Regions from separate parts of the Homo sapiens genome. Here all the other regions are linked to region 2. The links come from fine-mapping of genetic effects on gene expression. A gene starts in region 2. Each other region holds a variant in brackets. All regions are shown on one strand. Distances are between the middles of the regions.

Region 1 (5,720 bases), 66 kb after region 2:
GGGTATTTCTTCATAGCAGTGTGAGAATGCACGAATACACCTGTTTTATGTGTGCTCCCATTTAAAGACAACCTATTTAATAGATACTGTGGATTCCTTAACATAGAAACTCCCAGCCAACAGTCACAACCATGACTCCTGTCTGAAGGGAGCTTGGCTAGCGTGTGTTTTCTCTGTGAGGCACATCACAGCCCCCTGCCCTTAGGAACACCAGACACTTCAGCTGCTCTGCGAGTGCACAGGACTAACTACAAAAGCACTGAGATCATTGCCTGCGTCTACAAATTAATTTCGGCAGGGAGGTGACCTCGCAAATAGAGTCCCCAGATCATGAGGGTGGACTGTGGATGTTTCTAAGGGCTTAAGTGGCTCTCCTCTCTCCTGCTCCTCCAGAGGCCCCCAGTTTTCCTCTGCAGAACTCTCTACACACCTGTGCTGGTTGGTGACAAGAGAGACCCTCAGAACAAAACAGATTTGCAGGTGGAATCAAGAAAATCAGGCACCAGACATGCAGAGAGTGAGGGCGACAGGGGAGGGGGTGCCATCCTTGTTATCTGTGGCCTGGGGTGGCCCCAAAGCTGCTCCTGGGTGGAGAAACCCTGGATGAGGGCCTGAGGGACACAGGCAGAAATGTGGGCACACTGGGGTTCCAGGGAGTAAATCGTCCAGTGCTGGAGAGACCCTCAGGACTTGGGCTCATGATTCCGGTGAGCAGTGAAATCGGTGAAGGTGGGAGACGGTTTTGAGAAAGACTGCTTTTTCTCAAGTTGCTTCGCTTTATAGATGAGAGGGCCAGAATTATCTCTGCCCCTGCTTTCTAAGAAAAGTGAGCTGTAACTGTCAAAGGACACACAGCTGGCATGGCCGTGCCCGCTGGGCCTTCCTGACCATGGGTGCCACGAGGGCTGGAGGGGTGCTCACCGTTGCTGGCCCGCTGTTTGATGGTCAGCATCTGCTCTCCAGAAAGCTTTGCCTTCTTCATCGCTGACGTGGCTCTCGGGCATCCTGACAAGCTGTGGACAAGACACAGGACGGCCATTAGTCAACTGTCTAATGTCCCAGCCCTGCAGGGAAGTGGTGGTAAGCAAGGCGTAGAATAGCATTATTAGGTTGGTTGCCAGCAAAAGGCTGTCTGAAAATGAGAAAAAGCAAAAAGACCAATGCATACAGTATGACAGTTATGCACACATGGGGTGCATGTGTGTGCACTCATGCATGTGGTGAGCACTGATCATGGGTGCTCGGCTGGGGCTGCCTCTTGGCGGGGGGTCTTGGGAGCTGGGGCTCTGAGAGCAGAGGAAATCTGCCCTTCATTGTATAACTTTCAGAGCTTTTTGGAACTTTTGTAGAGTGATAATATTGCTTAAAAATCTTTATTATGGAAAGCATCAAGCTCATAGAAAGGTTGGGTTTAAAAGTTAATTTCAAATATACAAAAGTAGAGACAGCAGAATAATGAACTCACCCCAAATTCAGCTGTTATCTCTCAAGGCTAGTCACCTGTGCCCCTCCTGCTTCCCCAGTCTCAAAGGTGAAAACATAACTGCAATCTCCTTATCTCACTTACAATTTTTAGCCAGTTTTCTAGTATCAGCAGCTATTCAGTCTGTTTTCAAACTTTCCAGGTGTCTCTTCACTTTTCTCAGCCACTGGTTTGTCGACGTCAGGATGCGTCTCAGCTCTTCACAGTGTATGTGGCAGATGTGGCTGGCAGCCTCCGGGGCAGGAAGGCACCTCTGCCTCCTTTTCTGTCCTGTTGGGTGTTTGCTGAAGATGGCGTGTCCTGTGTGCGGAGCGCCTCTTCCATGCAGTCCCGTGCCTCGGCTTCCTCACAACTCCTCAGTCTCCGAGGGGCCTTCCCTCCCTTCCAGGGGCTCCTGGACGTGCTGGTCAACTGGAGTCCTCACTGTGCTAAAGGCCAGGGGCCATCTGGCACTTAACTATGGGTGAGGTGAAAAACTTCTATATATAACGCTTTTTTTTTTTTTTTTTGAGAGGGTCTTGCTCTGTCACCCAGGCTGGAGTGCAGTGGCCCGATGTCGGCTCACTGCAGCCTCTGCCTCCTGGGTTCCAGTGATTCTCCCGCCTCAGCCTCCCGATTACAGAATTATAGCCTCTGGGATTACAGGTGTGTGCCACCACACCTGGCTAATTTTTGTATTTTTAGTAGAGACAGGGTTTCACCATATTGGCCAGGCTGGTCTTCAACTCCTGACCTCAGGTGATCTGCCCGCCTTGGCCTCCCAAAGTGCTAGGATTACAGGCATGAGCCACCGCACCCCGCCTATAATGTTTTATATATGTATATGACATATGTGTTTATTCTCTCTATACATAATATTGTATTTCACCTGTATATGAAGTGTTAGATGGACCGTGTCCGTAAGTGGTGTGATGATGTGTTAGTGATATATCTAGAAACACTCTTTACTAGTGCAGGCAGATTACATCATTATTAGAAATATCTCTAATATCTGCATTAATATAATTAAGCTTTCTAAATATTATTTTTGTAATACATTTTCTTTTAAAATTTAAGAAAACAGGAAAATTCATAGCAGAAGAACTTGATCGTAATACATTTTCAACTGGGGATATTAGTGGTTGTTTTTGGGGAAATCCTATCTTTGTATAAAAATATTTCCAGTATTCTTCATCCACACCACAGGTCTAAGTTGTTATTTTTTTGATGTGATGTTT[G/A]CATCTCATAATTATAATAGAATATTCATAAAATTCTAAATAATCATTGCTGTTGCCTGACTGTGTCCCCTGAAAACTCGTGCACTGAAATCCTGACCCCCACCGGGATGGTGTTAGGAGAAGGGGCGTATGGGAAGTGAGGAGGCCTCGTGATGGGATCCGTGCCCTTATAACAGGGACCCAGACAGCTCCTTAACCCCTTCTCCCATGTGAGGACAGAGTGAGAAGGCGTCGTCCACCAACCAGAGAGCAGCAGTTGCCAGATGCCGAATCTGCTGGTGCCTCGGTCTCGGACTTCCAGTCTCCAGAACTTGGAGGAATAAATTTCTGGTTTCTATGCTGCCCAAGGTATGGTATTTGTTTTTGCAGCCCTGGAACGTCTAAGACAATCACCAGTATTTGTTGCTCATACCACAACTCTGTGGCTGTGAACTGCTGTGTTTGCTGATGATGTTCCTAGGTTCAGTGGGAGAAGGAGCAGCGGGGACTTTAACCCCAGCGTCATCAGCTCCAGCATCATCAGCTCTGGCGTCATCAGCTCTGGCGTCATCAGCTCCAGCATCATCAGCTCCCGCGTCCTATCCCATCCCAGGGCAAGCCGCACGGGAAGCCCCAGGAGCAGAGAGGCCTCTGGGAACTGGGTGGCCTGACAGGGTGGGCACGGTGGGCGCCCTGGCTTCTCCTGCTTGCCCTGACTGCATCCCCAGGAATCCGGACAGTCCCTGAGGGGGTCCTGGCTCGTGGTTCCCTTTGCTGTTTTTTTGTTCATTTATTTGTTACTAGACATTGGCACTGCTGCTTCTGATGGATCCTCTCACCCTGCCTGCTGCTGTTTACACCGGAAATCCCTGTGCTACTCAAGCTGTCTTTAGTGTGGGGCGTGAACGAACCCCTCGCGTTCCGGAGGGAACAGGCTCCTCTTCAGTCCTCCCTGATGGGGCCTGGGCAACAACCTGGCAGTCGTCCCCACTCCGGGGCACCCTCCTGGGTCTTCTCCTGCCTCCCCATCAGATCCCAGCAGGACGCCCTGCAAATCCGGCTGGGGTGGGGGCTGACACTTCTGCTTCCCTAGCTTATCCGTAAATCTGCTTCTGAAGGCGAGCTGGATATTTTCATTTGTAAAATAAGAAGTTCTCAAAAGATCTGTTAAGGCTCTCCTAAAATAGGATGCTTGGATGTTAACGCCACTTTTCCCCTTCCTGCCACTGGACACACTGTGGCTGTCACACACATCTTCCTGCAGGTGTGTCTGCGCTTTGGCCCCCGCATCCAGGTAGACTCTGCAGTCAGGTGACTACATCTGGCAAGTCCTTTGTGAGACCAGGAGGCCCACTGGACCTCACACCGCACCCCCTGATGCTCTAACGCACATAAGACGTGGAACTGGCTAGGAAAGACTTAGGCAGTCCTGTTTGCTCACTTATGAAATGAGAATAAAATATTGAATTGACTGTGTTTGTGAAGTTTAATGAAAAGAATGTGTATTCTTGAGGGCAAGGATTAAAATGCACTTTTTTGTTCACTGCTCTGTATCCCCATGATGGGAGAGTGCTGGAGATGGAATAGGTGCCCAGTGACGACTTCTGAAAGCATAAAATGTCTGAATGCACTTTGTGATGGCTCAGTGAGTGGAGGCCCAGGGTGAGTGTGAGTGCACCCAGGCTCTGGAAGGTGCAGACTGAGCCCTCAAAGAGGCCTGCGGCAGGATTTTGCAGGACTTCCAAGTTAAGAGAAGACTCTTAGCCGGGCGCGGTGGTTCATGCCTGTAATCCTAGCACTTTGTGAGGCCGAGGCGGACAGATCATGAGGTCAGGAGTTCCAGACCAGCCTGGCCAACATGGTGAAACCCTGTCTCTACTAAAAATACAAAAATTAGCTGGGCGTGGTGGCAGGTGCCTATAATCCCAGCTACTTGGGAGGCTGAGGCAGGAGAATCTCTTGAACCCGGGAGGCAGAGGTTGCAGTGAGCCGAGATCGCACTGCTGCACTCCAGCCTGGGTGACAGAGCAGGACTCCGTCTCAAAAAAAAAAAAAAAAAAAAAGACTCTTGAATGCAGCTGCCGCCCTGGGTTAAGATGAGAGGAGGGCTGGGGTGAGGGCCTCCTGCAGAGGTCCTAAGACTGTGACTGTAGGACAAGGGTGACGCCTGGTCGGTCCACGGTGCGTGTGGCCCAGCCCGGCTCAGTATGATCCTCACAAATGCAGGGAGCAGCTCCCATCTTTCCCCCGCTGAACCTCTCTGGCCTTCCGCCGTCTGAACCTCCGCAGCCCTTTCGACTTTCCCTGTGTTTGCGAATGGCATTGAGGGGCCAGGAGCTGCAGGTGGGGGGGAGAGAGGGAGGGCCACAAAGGCACGCCTCCTCCTCCTTGCCGTCCTCCCAGCGAGCAGCCTCTGCTGTTTGCGCCTGAACCCCCTCCCTTCTCTTCATCACTTCAGTCCAGGTCTGTGCTTCTTTCTCCCTCAGCGAGGCCCCTGGGCCTCAGCCTGGGTCCCATCCGTTCCATCCCACAGCTGAGAAATGGCCCCAGGGGCACAGCTGTGATTGCCCCCACTCCCCCAGGAGAGCTTCCAGCAGCTTCTCTGAGAGCAGCTGCCGATGCTGGAATATTTCCTAGAGCAGGGGTCCCCAAACTCCCGGCCGTGGCCTGTGAGGAACCGGGCCGTACAGGTGGAGGTGGGCAGTGGGCGGGCGAGCATTCTCACCTGAGCTCCGCCTCCCGACACGTCAGCGGCGGGATTCGATTCTCCCAGGAGCGCAAACGCTACTGAGAACTGCGCCTGCGAGGGGGTCCGGGCTGCGGGCTCCTTAGAAGTTAATCCTGGTGATCCCAGGTGGAACGGTTTCATCCAGAAACCATCCCACCCCTTTTCTGTAGAAAAATTAGCTTCCGGCCGGGCGCGGTGGCTCACGCCTGTAATCCCAGCACTTTGGGAGGCCGAGGCGGGCGGATCACGCGGTCAGGAGATCGAGACCATCCTGGCTAACACGGTGAAACCCCGTCTGTACTAGAAATACAAA
Region 2 (5,591 bases):
ATGCAAATGTACCCTATGAGGAAGTGTTGTGCGAGTGGACGATGATGTCACCCGTCTACTCTCAGCTCCTTTTTCAAATTCGGTGAGGCGTTTGTGGACGAGCACACCATGCAAAGCGGAGCAGAGGACCCCATGTGTGTCCTACGACACTTATTTTAACATGTTATTTTCAACAAGCAATTAATATTCCGGGGCAAAACATACCGCAAGCTTTATGAAACTGACCAGATGGGAAAAATCTTTGAGGTGCCATTTTTCCACTGGCTCAGCAAGAATTACATTATCCAGACCCAGGGAAACCTCACCCGGCTCCATTCTAAAAGTCCACTGCTGTTGAGTGAGATGCCCCCGAGTCGTCCGGCCTGGGCTGACCATTCACGGGCTCTGGAAAGAAAGCCTTGGTCTCTCTGCGGAGGAGGAGAGGAACTCGGGCCCCCGCCCCGCCCCAGGGCCTCCAGGAAGCAGCCTGCAAACTCGGCGACCCCTGGGAGCCGTGGTCTGTCCCAGCACTTTGTTTCGGAGGTAGGCGCACTGGCCGCCCACTTCCTGAATTGTTCACTCAATTTTTTTACAACTTTTGCAGACTCTTTGCTGGTGCCAAAAAGTCCTCTGGCTCAGCTAAGAAACGTGAAAACTATTTTTGGCATGCAGAAAAGTCGCTACAGGACTAAATTAGAGTCGGCGCCTGAAACGCAGCCCGCGTTCACAGATCCCGAAAATGTTGAATCCGACTCGCTTCAGAACACAGGAGGCCTGCAGCGAACTCTGGCGGCATCTCGGTACCTGGAGCCGCGGGGCGGAGGGATGGGGATTCCTGCTGTGGAGACCGTGACGCGGGACGGCCCGCAGGACAGGGTGTCAACCCCAACGCAACGCATCCGGTTAAACGTATAGCGCAACTGCGAACACGCTCGCGTGGATTAGAAGCGAAAGAAGAGAAATGCCCGAGGCAGAAACCCGCTCTGAGTCCCGGCTCCATCTAGACCCGGGCTGCCCCGAGACTACCGCGCGGCCCCTCTCGGGAACCCCGGCCGCCCGGCTCGCTCCGGGCGCAGGAAAAGCCCCTGAGAAGCGCGGGGCCCCCAGGACACCCCAGGAGAGGACGCTCCGGGCAGATGCGGGGGCACTGGGAGCGGGGGCGCCGCGGCTGCGGGAACTGAGGCTCCTCTGGGGAGGCTTCCCCGGCGCGGGGGGATGGGGTGGGCACTGCGCTCCAAGGGGCGGGGGAGGGGGAGAGGGCGGAGGCTGGGGGAGGAGAAGGAAGGGGGGGAGGAGGAGGGGAAGGGAGGAGGAGGAGGAAGGGGAGGAGGAGGAGGAAGGGGAGGAGGAGGAGGAAGGGGAGGAGGAAGAGGAGCGGAGGAGGGGAGCGAACAGGACGAGGAACGGGGCGGAGGGGGCTGGGAGGACGGAGGGGGCTGCGCCGCGCTCGGGGAGCGGAGGGGGACCGAGGGGTCCTGAGCGGGGGAAAGGTGAGCGGAGGAGGGGCCGCGAACCAGGGGGAAGCGGGAGGCCGGCGGAGCATGAGAGGGGGCGGCGGGAGGCGAGCGGGGGGAGCCCCGGAGGCTCCAACAACTTCCCAGTCCTGCGGGGATTCCGAGTTCCGAACAAAGGCGGCTACGAAGGCCGCGCGCACAGCGCTCTGTTCCGCCCCTCGGCGTCTCCCGCAGGGCGAACAAAGGCCCAGCGGGTCCCCGCGCCCAGGTCCCCCCACGTCCCCCTTCGGAGGTTCCCTTCTGCGTCCCAAGTCCCCAGGCCCCCCGCGCGCCCGATGCCCCCTCCACCCTCCGCGCCCCCCACCTCCGATCACCCCTGCGCTCCCGGATCTCCACGAAGCCCCGGACCCCGCGCCCCCGGCGTCCCCCGCGGCACTCACAGGATGGAGGTCTGCGGCGCCACGGCGGGCACGGCCTCCAGCAGCAGATGCATGCAGCGCACGGTGGTGCGGAAGCACAGGCAGCGGCTCGGACACCCTGCGCCCGGCTTCTGGGCCACCACGGCCAGCGTCCCCCAGGCGCAGAACAGCACGAGCGCCAACAGGCAGCGGCGCCCGGGGCCCCTGGAGCGCTTGGCCATGGCCGACGGCGCGGACGGACGCTCGGACGCACGGAGCCACCACGGCCGGCTCCCGACTGCGCCCGCCCGGCCGCGGCCCACGTCCCAGCTGTGCGCGGGGGGCGGGGGGCGCCAGCTGTGCACATGCGCGAGGCTCCTCCCGGCCCCTCTGAATCCCCGAGGGCGGGGCGGGGCGAGAACCCGGGGCCCCAGCGTCCGGCCTGAGCGCCCTCATCCCGGTGGGGCGGCCCGCATGGCCAAGGCGAGCGCTCGGGGGCGCGGAGGAGAGCATTGGCACCCCTGATTCTGCGCTCGAGACTCGGGGCTCGGGACCCTGGGGCCTACGCGAAGCTTCTCCACTTCTCTTACCCGTGGTTTCTGCCTGCGCTCACTACGGGTTTTTTAGTTGGCGCCTTAATGTTTGTAACACTTTTAGAGCGCTTGCTCTGATCCGGGCACGATTCCAGGCGCGCAGGCGCGCTCCTCTCTTTCTCCTTCTCCCTACCCGCAACCACGTAGGAAATTATTTAACGTTCCAAAAAAGCCCCTCATTCCTTTTGAGGAAACTGAGGCCCAAGCCCCAAAGCGCACAGCAAGGGAGTCTGCGGGAAGATTAGACCCAGGCGGTCCGGCTCCCCGGGGCCTGTCAGCCACCTGCTCTCTGCCGGCCGCCTGGCTCAGCACAGTTGGGAAAATGAAAGGTCCTGTGTGGAGTCCTTGGCGCGGCGCAATGCAGCCCCCGGGATTCTCGCGGCCTTCAGTGCGTGCCCTCCTGGGACAGACCTAGGAGGAGACCCAGGGAACCCCCCCCCCCCACGTCGGGTGTGTCTAGAGACAGCAGAAGACTTTGGAAAGGAGGGAAGACACTGCGTGAGATACGCACAAAGGTGGCGTTCTCACATAGTTCATACATTCTCTCCAATCATCTCACAAGGACCCAGTCTGAATTTCACAGACAAGGAAGGTGAGGCCAAGTTGCTGAACCCAGGCCACAGGGTGACGGTGCCAGATTCAGAGGCACAGCATGGGCGTGTTCCCGTCGCAAACCCCAAGTCTCAGCTGTGTCCCCGTGCTGGTGTTCTAGCCTGAGCTGCGTTTGAAAGCAGCCTGGAATGGGATTGGTGGGTAATAGGCTAGTTTCCTGTTGCTATGTTAAAACACAAAAGCAACTACCACGAGACATAGCCCGGAGGTCACAGGTGCATTGCTGACCACAGGGCACCATCTAAGGACTGGACCCCCGAGGCTGCTGGCAGGGGGTTCCAGTTCCTTGCCGTGTGGGTCTCCATGGCCTGCACACTGGACATGGCCTGATGCCTCCCAGAGCAGGTATTAGAAGAAAGAGGAAGAGAATGAGAGTACAACACAGAAGCCAGGGTAAAACCTAACCCAGCCTTGGAACTGGCCCCGCATCACACCTGCGGGGTGCATCCTCAGAGGTCGGTGGCTCCCGCTGACATTCCAGATGCCATCTTTCCTGCAGGATTTTATCCACCCTCTACAGCGGATGCAGCTCACACTCCGGATTCCATTTCTCCTGCAGGATCCTATTCACACACTCCGGTGGGCCCAGCTCACACTGCAGACAACATCTCTCCTGCAGGATACTATCCACACACAGAAGTGGGTCCAGCTCACACTGCAGACATCTCTCCTGCAAGATCCTATTCACACATTCCAGTGACTCCAGTTCACACTGTAGATGCCAAAACTTATGCAGGATTCTATGCACACACACTAGTGGTGCATTTCACACTCCGGATGCCGTATCTTCTGCAGAATCCTGTCCACACATTTCAGTGGGTCCAGTTCACGCTCTACATGTGCTCTCTCCTGCGGGCTCCTATCCACACACTCCGGAGGTGCCATTCACACTCTAGATGCCATCTCTCCTGCAGGACGATGTCCACACCCTCCAGTGGGTCCAGTTCACACTCTAGAGGACATCACTTTTGCAGGATCCTCTCTACACATTCCACCGGTGCCATTCACACCACAGATGCTGTCTCTTTGCAGAGTCCTATCCACATGCCCCAGGGCTGCAGCTCACACTGCAGACACCATCACCCCTGCAGTATCCTATCCACACACCTCAGTGGGTCCCATTCACACTCCAGAGGCTATCACTTTTGCAGGATCCTATACACACACTTTAATGGGGCCAGCTCACAGTCCAGAAGCCGTTACTCCAGCATGATTCTAGCTACACACCCCAGTGGCCCAGTTTACACTGCAGATGCCTTGTCTTCTGCAGGATCCTCTCCAGGCACAACAGTGGGTCCAGTTCACACTCCAGTTGCCATCTCTCCTGCAGGACCCTACCCATACACTCAAGTGGGTCCAGTTCACACTCCAAATGCCATCCACCTGCAGCATCCCAACCTCTCACTCAAGTGGGTGCAGTTCACACTCCAGTTGCCATCTCTCCTGCAGGACCCTACCCACACACTACAGTGCTCCACTTCACACAGCAGACATCATCACTGCTGAAGGCTGCTGTCCACACAGTCCTGTGGATGCAGTGCTCACTCCACATGCCATCACTCTTGCAGGATCCTACCCACACACTCGAGGCAGTCCAGATCACACTGCAGATGTCATCACTCCTGCAAGATGCTATCCATACACTCCAGTGGGTTCGGTTCACACTGCAGATGCCATCTCTCCTCAAAGATCCTGTCTACACATAGCAGTGGTTGAGTTTGGGTCCCACCCAAAGATTCCAGTGGGTCCGCTTCCCACTGCACACGCCATCTCACCTGCAGGATTCTCTCCATACACTCCACTCAGTCCAGTTTACATTCTACATGTCGTCTCTCCTGCAAGATTCTATCCACACACTCGAGTAGGTCCAGCTGAAACTCCATATGCCATCGCCCCTGCGGGATCCTGCGCACACTCTCCAGTGGGTTCAGATTAGACTCCGGGTGCCATCGCCCCTGCGGGATCCTGCGCACACATTCGAGTGGGTTTAGTTCAGATTCCGATGCCATCACCCCTGCAGGGTCCTGTCCACGCACTCCAGAGGATTCATTTCAGACTCCGGGTGCCATCGCCCCTGCGGGATCCTGTGCACACACTCCAGTGGGTTCAGATTAGACTCCGGGTGCCATCACCCCTGCAGGATCCTGTGCACACACTCCAGTGAGTTCAGCCATCACCCCGCAGGATCCTGTGCACACACGCCAGTGGGTTCAGCCATCACCCCGCAGGATCCTGTGCACACACACCAGTGGGTCCAGATGCAGATGCCATCACTCCTCCTGGATCCTCTCCACACCCTCCTGTTGTTCCAGCTCACACTGGACGCCATCTCTCCTGCTGGATTCCATCCACAGATGCTCTTGCGTCCAGCACATGCCACAGCAGAGCATCAACTGGGAGCGTAAGGAACATGAGACAGAACCACTGGGGACCATCTTAGAGGCTGCCTACCACGTGTCACTCTTGAGTTTGTGTAGAACAGGGATGCTTGTGAGAATGCTTCTTCTGTATTTCCATAATGGCAGAATGCTGGGTGGGAGCTGCAAACATTATAT
Region 3 (4,000 bases), 24 kb before region 2:
ACCTCGCAGATGGCATGTGAGGGGCACACCCAGGACACGCTGACAGCCACGCAAGGTCCCTGCAAAGGCAAACACCGGGCACAGCAGCCGAGCTGAGACGCCAGGGGCCAGGGGCTGGCTGCACTGGCGCAGTCATGGCTCCTTAGACGAGCGAGCCAGCCTGGGGCCCTGCGGCCATGCCTCCCACCTGAGTTACTCGGAAGGGGGCTTGCTCCACACCTTCTCACACCACCTGCTCCCCGTGTGGGAACAGAGCCAGGGGAGGCAGCCACCCACCTTCACCCCTCAGCCACAGCCTGGCAATCCCCTAAGAGGACACCCCATGGAGAAAGGCCCTCCCCAGGCAGCAGCCGGCAGCACCCAACCCAGCCAGGCTCTGTCCCAGGCCCTCCTGGGTCTGTGCCCCTGCTCAGGGTCCTCTCCCCAGCACGAATCCTTACATAAACCACACAAAGCCTGTGTGCCTTGAGGGTACATGGAACCTAAGAGGGGACACTGGCCTTGCAGGAGGCATCGAACTCCTCGCCGGTCCCCGCCGACCTGCCTGCTTGGCTCCCTAGCACCCCTGTGCCTCTAACAGCGGCCTCCAGGGCCTCTCTGGATTCTCACCACAGTCCTCCAGTTTCAGCCCCCACGGCCAGCTGTTAATCCCTGAACATTTTCAAGTTCAAGTTCTCAGGAGACAGCACTGGCTGGGCTAAGCCTGACCATCAGTGACTAGCACATGGACCACTGTCCTGGGTCAGGCGCCCACCCGGTTCCAACCAGCTGCGGTCCAGGAGGACCAGGTCATGTGACACACATCGTGAACACTGGATTGGTCAGGGTTCTCCAGAGAAATGGAGACCACAGGATGTGTGTACATGCGTGCATTGTGTGTGTGTGTGTGTGTGTGTGTGTGTGTGTGTGTGTGAAAGAGAGAGAGGGAGGGAGATTCAGAGAGAGAGGGAGGGAGGGATGCAGAGAGGGAGAGAGAGAGAGGGAGGGATGCAGAGAGAGGGAGATGCACAGAGAGAGGGAGGGATGCAGAGAGAGAGGGAGGGGAGGGATGTAGAGAGAGAGAGAGAGAGAGGGAGGGATGCAGAGAGAGAGAGAGGGAGGGAGGGATGCAGAGAGAGAGGGAGGGAGGGATGCAGAGAGAGAGGGAGGGAGGGATGCAGAGAGAGAGGGAGGGAAGAATGCAGAGAGAGAGAGAGGGAGGGAGGGATGCAGAGAGAGAGAGATGCACAGAGAGAGGGAGGGATGCAGAGAGAGGGAGGGATGCAGAGAGAGAGAGAGGGAGGGAGGGATGCAGAGAGAGAGAGAGAGAGGGAGGGATGCAGAGAGAGAGAGAGGGAGGGAGGGATGCAGAGAGAGAGAGATGCACAGAGAGAGGGAGGGATGCAGAGAGAGGGAGGGATGCAGAGAGAGAGGGAGGGGAGGGATGCAGAGAGAGAGATGCACAGAGAGAGGGAGGGATGCAGAGAGAGAGGTGGGGTTGAAGGTGAGAAGAGAGGCAGAAGGGAGGTGTATTTTAAGGAGCTGGCTGAGATGGTGGTGGCTTGGCAAGTCCAGAGTCTGCAGGGAGTGCCTCGCTCCACGCTTTCTCACACCACCTGCTCCAGACCAGAGCCTGGGGAGGCAGCCGACCACCTTTGCCTCTCAGATACAGCTCTCTCTGCATCTCTTTCTCTCTCTCTGCATCTCTTTCTCTCTCTCTGCATCTCTTTCTCTCTGCATCTCTTTCTCTCTCTCTCTGCATCTCTTTCTCTCTCTCTCTCTCTCACACACACACACACACACACACACACACGTACACATATCCTGTGGTTTCCATTTCTCTGGAGAACCCTGACCAACCCAGTGTTCGCAATGTGTGTCACATGACCTGGTCCTCCCGGACCGCAGCTGGTTGGACCTGGGTGGGCGCCTGACCCAGGACAGCAGTCCTCATGCTGGCCGCTTACTGATGCTACAGCCCCGGGGAAGCATGGTAGCTGCAGCTCCAGTCCAAAAGCCGCCTCTGCTGGTGGAATTCCCTCCTGCTCCGGGGAGGTCAGCCTTTATTCCGTTAAGGCCTTCAACTAACTGGACGAGGTCCACCCACACCACAGAGGACAGTCGGCTCTACTCAAAGTCTCCAGATTTAAATGTTACTGTCCTCTAAAAACCCCTTCACAGAAACATCCAGAATAATGTCTCAGCACATATCTGGGTGCAGTGGCCCAGCCAAGTCGACATAAAATTCAGCATCACAGGCAGGCAGGCAGCGTGGCTGAGGATGGGGCTCCTTCACTTAGAAGGTGCAAATGTGGCAGGCAGCTGAGATGAAGCCAACTTAGAAGTGTCAGAATTCAAACAACTGAACGG[G/A]AATAGTTTCAACAACGGTACGGGTTAATTGAGGTGGTTCCTGTTCAGAAAGACCCAGTGTGCTCTTTGAGTTGAGCAAAACAAATGGATGAATCATGTTAATCCCACTGGGCATTCATCCAGGATTCAGCCAACCAGCAGGCAGGAAGCCCCTCTTCACAAACCAAGCCCAGGAAGTAACTGACTCCAGGCTCTAGTGAAACAGATTGAGTTTTGCTTGTTGCTTTTCTAAAAGCCTCAAATTGGCCGGGTGCGGTGGCTCACGCCTGTAATCCCAGCACTTTGGGAGGCCGAGGCGGGCGGATCACGAGGTCAGGAGATCAAGACCATACTGGCTAACACAGTGAAACCCCGTCTCTACTAAAAATTAGCCGGGCTTGGTGGCGAGCGCCTGTAGTCCCAGCTACTTGGGAGACTGAGGCAGGAGAATGGCGTGAACCCAGGAGGTGGAGCTTGCAGTGCCACTGCACTCCAGCCTGGGAGACAGAGAGAGACTCCGTCTCAAAATAAATAAATAAATAAATAAAAGCCTCAAATCAGGCTGTGCTTTAATGACCTCCACTGAGGAAATGAATCATAAAATGGAATCAAGAAATATTTATACCAAATAGTTACTAAGAGACTCAAAGGGGATCTAACCTAGGGGAATTCCCACATACACATCACTTGTTAGGAAGGCGAGAAAGGCAAGCCAAGCTGATGAGTGAATGAGGAAACGCTTTTTAAAGTGCTAAATAAGACAGTTTTATAAATGAGAAAATACCACAAGACAGAGTTAAGCGAGAAATAATGAACCCGAGAGGTGTTGACAATGGATGGGCTGAAGATGAACTATCAGGAAGTTTCTGAGCGAGCGGACACAAAATAGAACATGTAAGAAGAATAAAATTAAGCCAAAGCAGTCCCTCTTGAAAGCTCTCCACGTGGACGTCTTCACTTTACCTCAGGTTATTCCGGTCAGCAGCCAGCATGGCCGTTCCCTCACCCCAGGACTGTGATGCTGACGCAGTCTCCTCTCTCGGCACTGAGTCCTCAGAGTCCTGGTGGCTTGGCAGTCCCTCTCCCATGAGAAATTGAGAACAGGAGAATCTCAACGCAGAATCCATTGCGTGCAATGCATGGGTTATCCCAGCATCCAGATTCTAGCTGGCTGTGATCCTCAGAAGAACTGGGAACATATTCACCCAAATCATTTTCTTTGGAGCTTTATTTTCTCAATAACCAGTTGAAAAAGACTGCTAGACACAGAACTCTGAGGAACTTCCCAGCAAAGGAGGCTTCTCTAACCTCCCCTCAAAAAATATAAGAAAGTTGTATTTTAAAATCAGTGCATTCTGAACTTAGGAGAAAAGAGGTGTGCGTCTACAGGTGGGGCTCCTTCCACAGCTATCTCCTTCTCTATAACCCTCTAGCTAGGCTTCCAACACTATTCTTAAAATATGGGAGGGGGGTACGAGGAAGCAGGGACAGGGCTGTGGCTCCAGGGGCACAGTGTTGCAGGGCACGGTGTGCCTCACAGCCTGACCCCTTCTGGACCACAAGCACCTGACAGCCTGCTGCTGTCACCACTGTGGGACACTTCACAGTGATTCCAGTAGTGAGGGATGGATGGATGGGTGAATGGGTGGGTAGCTAGATGGAGAGATGTATG
Region 4 (4,000 bases), 41 kb before region 2:
TTGTTTTGTTTTGAGACAGAGTCTCGCTCTGTCGCCCAGGCTGGAGTGCACTGGCGTGATCTCGGTTCACTGCAACCTCCGTCTCCCAGGTTCAAGCAATTCTCCTGCCTCAGCCTCCCGAGTAGCTGGGACTACAGGCACCCGCCACTACGCCCAGCTAATTTTTTGTATTTTTAGAGATGAGGTTTCACCGAGTTGGCCAAGCTGGTCTCGAACTCCTGACCTCAGGTGATCCACGCACCTCGGCCTCTCAAAGTGCTTGGTTTTATACATTTTAGGGAGGCACGAGACATCAATCAATATATGTAAGATGAATTTAGTTCAGTCTAGAAAGGCGGGACAACTCCAGGTGAAGGGGGGGACAACTCCAGGTGAAGGGGGGACAGCTCCAGGTGAAGGGGGGGCAGCTCCAGGTGAAGGGAGGGCAGCTCCAGGTGAAGGGGGGCAACTCCAGGTGAAGGGGGGACAACTCCAGGTGAAGGGGGGACAGCTCCAGGTGAAGGGGGGACAGCTCCAGGTGAAGGAGGGACAACTCCAGGTGAAGCGGGGGACAACTCCAGGTGAAAGAGGGACAACTCCAGGTGAAGGGGGGGGCAACTCCTGGTGAAGGGGGGGCAACTCCAGGTGAAGGTAGGGGGCAACTCCAGGTGAAGGTAGGGGACAACTCCAGGTGAAGGGGGGCAACTCCAGGTGAAGGGAGGGCAACTCCAGGTGAAGGGGGGGACAGCTCCAGGTGAAGTGGGGGACAGCTCCAGGTGAAGGAGGGACAACTCCAGGTGAAGGAGGGACAACTCCAGGTGAAGCGGGGGACAACTCCCGGTGAAGGAGAGACAACTCCAGGTGAAGGGGGGGCAACTCCAGGTGAAGGGGGGACAACTCCAGGTGAAGGGGGGACAGCTCCAGGTGAAGGGGGGGCAGCTCCAGGTGAAGGTGGGGGACAACTCCAGGTGAAGGGGGGGCAACTCCAGGTGAAGGGAGGGCAACTCCAGGTGAAGGGAGGGCAACTCCAGGTGAAGGGGGGCAACTCCAGGTGAAGGGGGGGACAGCTCCAGGTGAAGCGGGGGACAGCTCCAGGTGAAGGGGGGGCAACTCCAGGTGAAGGGGGGGGCAACTCCAGGTGAAGGGGGGCAACTCCAGGTGAAGGGAGGGCAACTCCAGGTGAAGGGGGGCAACTCCAGGTGAAGGGAGGGCAACTCCAGGTGAAGGGGGGACAGCTCCAGGTGAAGGGGGGCAACTCCAGGTGAAGGGGGGGCAACTCCAGGTGAAGGAGGGCAACTCCAGGTGAAGGTGGGGGACAACTCCAGGTGAAGGGAGGGCAACTCCAGGTGAAGGTAGGGGACAACTCCAGGTGAAGGGGGGGCAACTCCAGGTGAAGGTAGGGGACAACTCCAGGTGAAGGGGGGCAACTCCAGGTGAAGGGAGGGCAACTCCAGGTGAAGGGGGGCAACTCCAGGTGAAGGGAGGGCAACTCCAGGTGAAGGGGGGACAGCTCCAGGTGAAGGGGGGCAACTCCAGGTGAAGGGGGGGCAACTCCAGGTGAAGGAGGGCAACTCCAGGTGAAGGTGGGGGACAACTCCAGGTGAAGGGAGGGCAACTCCAGGTGAAGGGGGGCAACTCCAGGTGAAGGGGGGGACAGCTCCAGGTGAAGCGGGGGACAGCTCCAGGTGAAGGAAGGACAACTCCAGGTGAAGCGGGGGACAACTCCAGGTGAAAGAGGGACAACTCCAGGTGAAGGGGGGGCAACTCCAGGTGAAGGGGGGGGCAACTCCAGGTGAAGGAGGGCAACTCCAGGTGAAGGTAGGGGACAACTCCAGGTGAAGGGGGGCAACTCCAGGTGAAGGGGGGGGCAACTCCAGGTGAAGGAGGGCAACTCCAGGTGAAGGTGGGGGACAACTCCAGGTGAAGGGGGGCAACTCCAGGTGAAGGGAGGGCAACTCCAGGTGAAGGGGGGACAGCTCCAGGTGAAGGGGGGCAGCTCCAGGTAAAGGGGGGGACAACTCCAGGTGAAGGGGGGGCAGCTCCAGGTGAAGGGGGGGCAACTCCAAGAGGGGAGGGAGCTTCCAGGTCACAGGTAGATAAGAGACAAATGGCTGCACTGTCTTGAGTTTCTGATGATCTTTTCCAAGGGATGCAGTCAGATATGCATGTCTCGGTGAGCAGAGGGTGGCTTTGAATACAATGGGAGGCAGCTTTGCCTTGAGCAGTTCCCAGCTTGACTCTTCCCTTTAACTTAGTGATTTGGGGGTCCCAAGACTTACTTTCTTTTCATACAAGTCTTGGGGAGCAACCATTATCACATGACATTAATAAGAGCAGATGATGCATCATCCGTCAGTGTATTCTGAGGATGTAATGAGAGGATGCACACACGAGCTAGTTAGTAACCAACTAAAAATTAACTGAAGTTACAGAAAAAAAGACAACAGTACTAAGAGCTCAACCCTGATGTCGCCCGGCACTGCCCATCACGTGAGAGCCGTGA[GAGCAGAGGGC/G]ACGTCTGCACACATCCCAGTGCCCTGGGCCTCCCCGGAGCCGTGAGAGCAGAGCATGTCTGCACACATCCCAGGGGCCCTGGGCCTCCCCTGAGGGAGAGGCAGACCGGCTCAGTTCACTCCCAAACCCACATGACCCACTGAAGACACTCCCTCCATGAAGGCTGGGGTTGGGAGGGGTGAATGTAGGAGGCAGCCATGTGCCACTCCCCATGAGCCCAGATGCAGGGTGCGGCTCCCCACGACCTGGGATGCAGGGTGCAGGGTGCAGCTCCCCATGACCTGGGACACAGGGTGCAGGATGCAGCTCCCCATGACCTGGGATGCAGGGTGCAGCTGCCCACGACCTGGGACACAGGGTGCAGGGTGCGGCTCCCCACGACCTGGGATGCAGGGTACAGAGTGCAGCTGCCCACGACCTGGGACGCAGAGTGCAGGATGCAGCTCCCCATGACCTGGAACGCAGGGTGCAGGGTGCGGCTCCCCACGACCTGGGACGCAGGGTGCAGGGTGCAGCTCCCTGTGACCTGGGACGCAGGGTGCAGAGTGCAGGGTGCAGCTCCCCGTGACCTGGGATGCAGGGTGCAGGGTGCAGCTCCCCACAACCTGGGATGCAGGTGCGGCTGCCCATGACCTGGGACACAGGATGCAGGGTGCAGCTCCCCACGACCTGGGATGCAGGTGCGGCTGCCTATGACCTGGGACGCAGGGTGCAGGGCACGGCTGCCCACGACCTGGGACGCGTGGAGTGTCACCAGCCCTTTTGGAGAGTTTCCCGCGTGGAGTGTGGGGCTACAAGGAGCAGTTCTCCGTCCATTACGGCCTCCCCCAGGCACTCCAGGCCCTGCCGCTCAGGCATCCATGTGGCTTGGACACCGTCAAGGCTACTGGCTTCTCTGATCCAGCTTCTTCAGGGTCTCCAGACCTCAGTCAGAGCGAGAACTTGGATCCGACTGGATGCCAGATTCAAGTTCTACCCTGCCCTCCGATTCCTGGGCTCTCAAACCCAGAGACCGTCCCAGCGTCTCTGACCTTCAGTGAGAGTTAGGAGCTCCCGGGTTATTCTATGAAATTGGGAGCTGGTCTGTCCAGCACCTAAAGATCTATCTGGGAGGGTGGGGCTTCCCTGTCCCACTGGCAGCCTGGTATTCACTGGGTCACAGTCCTGCCTCCATGTGATATCAAGTCCTCCAGGGAGCAAGTGCAGTAACAACTGTTTAAGTCACAAATCGGACACGGTCTCACTGCAAGCCACAGAATCTTACATCCTGCTGGCATTGCCAGAAGCCAGTCACCTGCCCCACTAATAATACAACCTGAGAGCACGCTGCAGTGTTCACCAATCAGCTCTAAGCATCACCTGCCCCACTAATAATACAATCTGAGAGCACGCTTCAGTGTTCACCAATCAGCTCTAAACATCACCTGCCCCACTAATAATACAATCTGAGAGCACGCTTCAGTGTTCACCAATCAGCTCTAAGCATCGCCTGCCCCACTAATAATAC

Which allele goes with the higher level. Alleles are on the strand shown, and positions count from the first base shown. SD is a standard deviation of normalised expression in the study named. Not every link is listed here.
As copies of G replace A in region 1, the expression in naive CD4 T cells of the gene that starts at base 2,133 in region 2 goes up (large effect, 0.89 SD a copy in Schmiedel 2018).

Evidence for each region. PIP is the estimated chance that this variant, and not a neighbour inherited with it, causes the effect. A credible set is the group of variants that fine-mapping cannot tell apart.
Region 1: its variant is the best candidate, but not a certain one, in a credible set for the expression of PXDN in naive CD4 T cells (Schmiedel 2018, PIP 0.55).
Region 3: its variant is the best candidate, but not a certain one, in a credible set for the expression of PXDN in whole blood (TOPMed, PIP 0.64).
Region 4: its variant is the best candidate, but not a certain one, in a credible set for the expression of PXDN in nasal epithelium (TOPMed, PIP 0.69).

What each region holds. Positions count from the first base shown.
Region 1 is chr2:1,808,155-1,813,874 of GRCh38, forward strand. MYT1L (myelin transcription factor 1 like) reads right to left here. Exons shown (of 25, transcript NM_001303052.2): 22 at 922-1,013. Among named protein-coding and RNA genes, the nearest start is that of PXDN, 66 kb to the left of the region's middle. The variant G/A (reference allele first, on the strand shown) is at 2,701.
Region 2 is chr2:1,742,383-1,747,973 of GRCh38, forward strand. It overlaps PXDN (peroxidasin), which reads right to left and starts at 2,133. Exons shown (of 23, transcript NM_012293.3): 1 at 1,874-2,133. The coding sequence starts at 2,073.
Region 3 is chr2:1,718,962-1,722,961 of GRCh38, forward strand. The region is part of intron 1 of PXDN (peroxidasin); the gene reads right to left. Among named protein-coding and RNA genes, the nearest start is that of PXDN, 24 kb to the right of the region's middle. The variant G/A (reference allele first, on the strand shown) is at 2,350.
Region 4 is chr2:1,702,635-1,706,634 of GRCh38, forward strand. All of the region lies in intron 1 of PXDN (peroxidasin), which reads right to left. Among named protein-coding and RNA genes, the nearest start is that of PXDN, 40 kb to the right of the region's middle. RefSeq lists enhancers at 1,893-2,496, 2,497-3,100. The variant GAGCAGAGGGC/G (reference allele first, on the strand shown) is at 2,483.